2 linked regions of the Homo sapiens genome follow. The protein of the gene in region 1 purifies or fractionates together with the protein of each later gene. This does not show direct contact. Each region holds a gene or a part of one and is shown on either strand. Other genes may lie near its edges.

Region 1 (3,500 bases):
CTGGGCAACCAGAGCGAAACTCTGTACCAAAAAAAAAAAAAGGCCAGGCGCAGTGGCTCACGCCTATAATCCCAGCACTTTGGGAGGCCGAGGCAGGCAGATCACGAGGTGAGGAGTTTGAGACCAGCCTGACCAACACGGTGAAACCCTGTCTCTACTAAAAATACAAAAATTAGCTGGGCGTGTGCCTGTAGTCCCAGCTACTCGGGAGGCTGAGGGAGAACAATCGCTTGAACCTGGGAGGCGGAGGTTGCAGTAAGCTGAGATCGTGCCACTGTACTATAGCCTGGCAACAGAGTGAGACTCTGTCTAAAAAAAAAAAGAGGCCGGGAGCGTAATCCCAGCACTTTGGGAGGCCGAGGCGGGTGGATCACGAGGTCAGGAGATCGAGACCATCCTGGCTAACATGGTGAAACCCAGTCTCTACTAAAAATACCAAAATTAGCCGTGCGTGGTGCCATGCGCCTGTAATCCCAGCTATTGGGGAGGCTGAGGCAGGAGAATCGCTTGAACCCGGGAGGCGGAGCTTGCACTGAGCCGAGATCGCGCCACTGGACTCTAGCCTGGGCAACAAAGCGAGACTCCGTCTCAAAAAAAAAAAAAAAAAGACAAGCCCTCTGGAGCCTCAGAACCAGCACCTCCCCTTCCTGCACATACCACAGCGGTAATAAGACAAGTCTGTGCAACTCACTGTTGCCCAGCTCTCCCCTCTGCCAGGATGTAAACTGCCTGAGGGCAGAAACAGCCCTGCTTCAGCCCCAGCTATGTCCCCAAGGCCTGGAACACTGGCCAGGACAGCAAAGAACAGGTCTGTGCCGAACAGGGACTCTGGCTACCACATACCTTTATGACCTTGGGCAAGTCCCATACCTAACCCCTTGAACCCTCAGTTTCCCAGCTGTAAAAGTGCCCCACAGAGTTGGGTCGTGAGAATTAAAGGGGATAATATGGTCAAAACATCCAGCATGGTTCATGACACCTAAGTGCTCAATATACAAGTCCTATTCACAGCCAGCACACAATAAATATTTGTCAATAGTCAACATACAGTGAGGGGCCCCAGGGTAGGTAGGAGATACCCGCACCCTGGCCGGCTGGCTCACTGTTCTTCAGAGTGGGAAGGGTGCACAAAGTTTAAGATTGGTGGATTTTGGCCAAGTTAAAACTTGCTGGATTGGCGGGGTGCAGTGGCTCACACCTATAATCCCAGCACTTTGGAAGCCCGAGGAGGGCAGATCGCCTGAGGTCAGGAGTTTGAGGCCAGCCTGGCCAACATGGTGAAACCCCATCCCTACTAAAAACACAAAAATTAGCCGGGCATGGTGGCAGGCGCCTGTAATCCCAGCTACTTGGGAGGCTGAGGCAGGTGAATGGCTTGAACCCGGGAGGCAGAGGTTGCAGTGAACCACGACTGCAGGCCGTTGCACTCCAGCCTGGACAACAAGAGCAAAACTCCATCTCAAAAAAAAAAAAAAAAAAAAAAAAAACCTGGCCAGGAGCAGTGGCTCACGCCTGTAATCCCAGCACTTTGGGAGTCCAAGGCAGGTGGATCTCGAGGTCAGGAAATCAAGACCATCTTGGCTAACACGCTGAAACCCCGTCTCTACTAAAAGTACAAAAAATTAGCCAGGCGTGGTGGCGGGCACCTGTAGTCCCAGCTACTCAGGAGGCTGAGGCAGGAGAATGGTGTGAACCCGGGAGGCGGAGCTTGCAGTGAGCCGAGATCGTGCCACTGCACTCCAGCCTGGGCGACCACACGAGACTGTCTCAAAAAAAAAAAAAAAAACGTGCTGGAATGTCACAATCAGTCATTCAGCGTCTGTCCAAAGTTCGGTGTTATTAGTAATAAGCAGAGGAAGCAGTCTAACATTGAAGAGCTCAGCTCTGGACCTATACTGACCCAAGTTCAAATCTTGGTTCTGCCATTTCCTAGTTGTGAGACTTCAACAAAGTTTCAAATGCCTCTCTTAGTTTCAGTTATAACAGTACTGACACCTTATAGGGTTGCTGTGGGGACTAACTGAGATCATAAAAGAATACAGTGCCTAGCACAAGGTAAGCACTCAAGATTTTTTTTTTTTTTTTTTTTTTGATACGAACTCTCACTCTGTCACCCAGGCTGGGAGTGCAGTGGCACGATCTTGGCTAACTCCAACCTCTGCCTCCTGGGTTCCAGCAATTCTCCTGCCTCAGCCTCCTGAGTAGCTGGGACTACAGGCACCCACCACGACACCTGGCTAATTTTTGTATTTCTAGTACAGACAGGGTTTCACCATGTTGGCCAGGCTGGTCTCGAACTCCTGACCTTGTGATCCTCCCATCTTAGCCTCCGAAAGTGCTGAGATTACAGGTGTGAGCCACCACACTTGGCCTTTTTTTTTTTTTTTTTAATTATACGTGTTATAGCCCCCAAAGTAACCAATGGTTACATAAAAGCAGAAATAACGGAAATAATAGGCCCTTCCCAGGCAATGCTTAATGTCAGCATCTTGCTCATTCCCCCAAATTCTGATAAGCTTTCCTGAGTGAGAAAAAAATTAGTGACTTTTAAGAGCAGACATGCCTGTAAGTCCTTTTTTTTTTTTTTTTGAGATGAGAGTGTCTCATTCTGTTGCCCAGACTAGAGTGCTGTGGCATGATCTCAGCTCACTGCAACCTCTGCCTCCCGGGTTCAAGCAATTCTCCTGCCTCAGCCTCCCAAGTAGTGGGATTACAGGCACTCACCACCACGCCCGGCTAATTTTTGTATTTTTAGTAGAGACGGGGTTTTACCATGTTGGCCAGGCTGGTCTCGAACTCCTGACCTCGTGATCCGTCTGCCTCAGCCTCCCAAAGTGCTGGGATTACAGGCCATGAGCCACCAAGCCCAGCGTTTTTGGGTTTTTTTGTTTTTGTTTTTGTTTTTGTTTTTTGAGGTGGAGTTTCACTTTTGTTGCGCAGGCTAGAGTGCAATGGCGCGATCTGGGCTCATTGCAACCTCTGCCTCCCAGGTTCAAGCAATTCTCCTGTCTCAGCCTCTTGAGTGGGATGACAGGCGCATGCCACCATGCTTGGCTAATTTTTGTATTTTCAGTAGAGACGGGGTTTCATCACATTGGTCAGGCTGGTCTCAAACTCCTGACCTCAGGTGATCCGCCCGTCTCGGCCTCCCAAAGTGCTGGGATTACAGGCATGAGCCACCGCGCCCAGCCTTTTTTTTTTTTTTTTTGAGACGGAGTCTCACTCTGTCGCCCAGGCTGGAGTGCAGTGGCGTGATCTTGGCTCACTGCAACCTCCGCCTCCTGGGTTCACGCCATTCTCCTGCCTCAGCCTCCCAAGTAGCTGGGATTACAGGCGCCCGCCACCATGCCCAGCTAATTTTTTGTATTTTTAGTAGAGACAGTGTTTCACCGTGTTAGCCAGGATGTTCTCAATCTCCTGACCTCATGATCCGCCCGCCTCGGCCTCCCAAAGTGCTGGGATTACATGAGCCACAGTGCCCGGCCTTTTTTTTTTTTTTT
Region 2 (3,500 bases), on another chromosome or scaffold:
TCTGGATAAAGATTAGACTTTTAAATGAATTATTAAAAGTTAAAAAAGTGTACTGCATTAATTTTCAAATCACAATCTTCTATTTATTTATAGACAATGTTTATGTGTGTGATAAGGGCTTACTTTTCTTGAAGCTTAAGTTAAAAATCTTTTCTCTTTTAATAATGCTTTATTTCTAAACAAACTATAATAATCAGATTTTCAAAATAAATTTAAATAAACTACTTATGCCACCCATTATTTTTTCTAGCTATGAAAATGGATAAATAATAGATCTCTCTGCCTGTAGTACCTAAGGGTTGTGAGGCACAAACCAGATCACAGGTGAAAGATGACCCAAAAGGAAAAACTTTAAAGTTTACAGTTGTAGTAGACTGTTCATCCATCAGTTTAAATTAGTAGATGATACTGGGATACGTAAATGTTGATTTGTTCCTCAGGCTGCAGTAATACAATGGGAACTCAAATCTCAAGTTATAGATAGATCAATTTACAGAAGGGTGGTACAGATAGTAAAGGATGGGAAAGAATGATTCTGAGAGGTAAAGTCATGTTATAAATGCTCACAGATTTGACTAACCGGAATAACTTATTACTGAGCAGGGAAACTCGAGATATACAAGTTGAAAGTAAGGTTTGAAAAAGAAATAGGAAGAGCAACTTGACACTGACAGATGTTTTCAAAAGTGCCATTTCAGCACAATTAACCCAATCCCACCCTCATTTCTACAGATGCTGTCAAAACAAATTCTGCTGATGTATAATTTTGCCAGCCTCCTATCTGCAGAACACAATGTCCTGACCATGTTTTTTTTCTTCAATTTTGAAGGAAAGGAGTAAATTCTGATTTTTGGTGTGAGAACTAGTAAATGCAGCTGTTGGGTTCGTCACTAAGTATTAAGATTTTATTTTTATTTTACTTTTTCTATTTTCAAGCAAATCAAGGTATCTGCAATTGATGAAAGATGATAATATACACTTAATATGGTCCTCAAGTGACAAATTTATTTTAAAAGTTCTTTTTAATGAAATATGCTATTTAAACTAGTTTACTTCTTTCCATATCATATATCCCATTATAAGAACATAATAGTAAACTTAAGCACATTTTTATTAATTAAACCCTTTCAGAGTTAAGATATGTAAACTCTAGAAATAGCACTAAACTAAAATAAACCAGATACCAGATATTCCAGGGAAATGGTCTTCTACTATTAATTCATTCCATACATAGTAAATCAGAAATGAGTTCTCCCAGCCTATTTTAATATTAAGTTAAGAATGACATATATACCAATGGATCATTCATTCTCTAAAGTATACTTTGGCCTTGTTTAGAGTTAATGAAAAAAAAGATGAGTTCTAAAACTTATACTTTAATTTGATCGCATCAACTCCCTGAAAAATATTAAACTTTTAATTCAAAATTTTCCTTTAAAATCTTTGAAAAATAGCCTGCAAATTAAAATTGATAACCACCTCATATAATGATTTTAAGGCTATTAAAGGATAACACACCCAAACAAAAGTAGAAATGAGTCAAGTTTTATTAGTTAGAGTTTGTTTTACCATGTCATTTATTTGGCCTTGGTGTCCAGAAAACTCTCTGACAATCTTCCTAGTTTCTATGTCCAGAACACTAATGGAGAAGTCATCCAAGGCGAGTCCCAGAATGCCACTAGCAAGATAAATGCACCAGTTTTAATAAACAAAAAACCCTTGAACTAAAATCTCACCTCCACTTGAATTTTGTTAAATCAAGTACACTTTGGGGGAAATTAAGCCAAATGTTGTTCTTTATTAAAGAGTCTGATTTTTCCCACTTGGTAAATTGTGACTTTATGACTTTTACCAAAAGAATCAAAGAGAAAATCCATTATCATTAAAAGTTTACCTGTCCCTATGTAGCAACATGATATTTGGAGATGAACTGAGGCTCACAGAATGGATTAAAATTTTGTTTTTAAAGTTCCAGAATTTGAGTAATCCTTCACTACCAGTTGTAACTGTCAACTGGTTTAATCCATCCACTGCGACACCTCTAACAGATCCCTTGTGAGCTGTAAGGTAGATGTCAAAAGAAAAAAAAAATCAGAATTGGCAGTGTTTCTCTCTGAACAATACACACAGTGATTCCTTCATTCAAATATGTAAGGTGCCACTTAAATATCCTTTAAAATCTTGAAATTAATCTGGATTTTAGGGGTGTAAGAAGATTCTTAATTATTAATACTGTTCGAGTAAAAAAACAGAAATCAGATCGATACAACATAGGTTTGAAAAGTTTGTTAAGATTTTCTGCTTAAAGGAGAGAAGAAAAAAAATTAATCTGTATAATATCCACGTAACTCTTTAAGTACCCATGACTTTTCTCTTTCAACATGGTCCTTATGATACAATTGCAGTATCTGCCATATAGGGTTGATTATAACCCATCTTCAACTTTAGCAAAATGCCCAGCACTTAAAGATTATACATACCAGCTTTCACTACTAGTTTTGTATCTATCTACATTAATAAAAAACAAGGAAAAAAATTCTCTACCTTGATCCTTGCCAAAACTTCCTCGATGTATGCCAGACTGCATGTTATATACATCTACAGTTCCTGATGAGAGGCCAATTACAGCAAAGTTTCCACAAGAAGTTATATCCACTGCCTTTAAGAAAAAAAACCCACAAATGACAAAATAACTAACATTTTTATTGCACTTTATGCTTTCCAAAGCATTTTTTTATCTACTTGTTCCTTTTTATTTAACAAAAGAACAATAAATGAATTGCTTCATTAGTTTTTTTAACATAAAGTAATTATATTTGGGTGTATAAGAATATATGCTAGATTCTATCTCCATTCTTTAAAAAGTATGAAGAATTACTATCTAAGAAAACAAAACATAACTAAGGTTAACTCAATTTAAATGTACAAAGTCAAGAGAACTATATATGGGACTAGCCTTCAATTTTTAATTTATTAACAAAGCCAAAGTTAAAACATTCCATCGCCTAATTTCTTTTTGTCTTGCCTTTTGTAACTGCTTCCACAGCTGACATAAAACCAAAAACATACCATTAGTTAGAATGGCCAAGCAAAAGCCCAAAATATTTTAATTATGACATATTAGGAAGGAAATATATAAGACACTACAGAGAAAACATTTGGTTTATAAGCAGGTTCTATAATATAATCTCATTTTAATACTTAAAATATCAATATTATGTCAATATATTTTTTCTATACTGAAAACATGAGACTGGCTACATATTTGGTCACTGCTGGAGAAATAACTGATTGCCAATGTGTGTCAGTCAGATGTCATCCACCAAGAGATAATTCAATTTACATCTAAACAGATGACTTATACAAACTAAGTAGAAAGTATTTAATGAAGGTTTATTTAACTAAGCAAAGCAACATAAAGTTTGACATACCACTTTGTCACGACATATTTACATTGCATCACATAAATATGTTTTACATACATACATTTTTCTAGATAA

What was found. Proteins that work in one complex are often made in the same cells at the same time.
Region 2: the proteins of ESRRA (region 1) and WDR36 fractionate together in Homo sapiens (co-fractionation; one large-scale study listed by BioGRID). This does not show direct contact.

Annotation. Positions count from the first base shown.
Region 1 is NC_000011.10:64,308,524-64,312,023, reverse strand, and holds part of ESRRA (steroid hormone receptor ERR1), read right to left. Parts: intron 1-3,500. UniProt on the Homo sapiens protein: Binds to an ERR-alpha response element (ERRE) containing a single consensus half-site, 5'-TNAAGGTCA-3'. Can bind to the medium-chain acyl coenzyme A dehydrogenase (MCAD) response element NRRE-1 and may act as an important regulator of MCAD promoter.
Region 2 is NC_000005.10:111,109,348-111,112,847, reverse strand, and holds part of WDR36 (WD repeat-containing protein 36), read right to left. Parts: intron 2,660-3,500; coding exon 2,545-2,659; intron 2,061-2,544; coding exon 1,895-2,060; intron 1,679-1,894; coding exon 1,570-1,678; intron 1-1,569. UniProt on the Homo sapiens protein: Part of the small subunit (SSU) processome, first precursor of the small eukaryotic ribosomal subunit.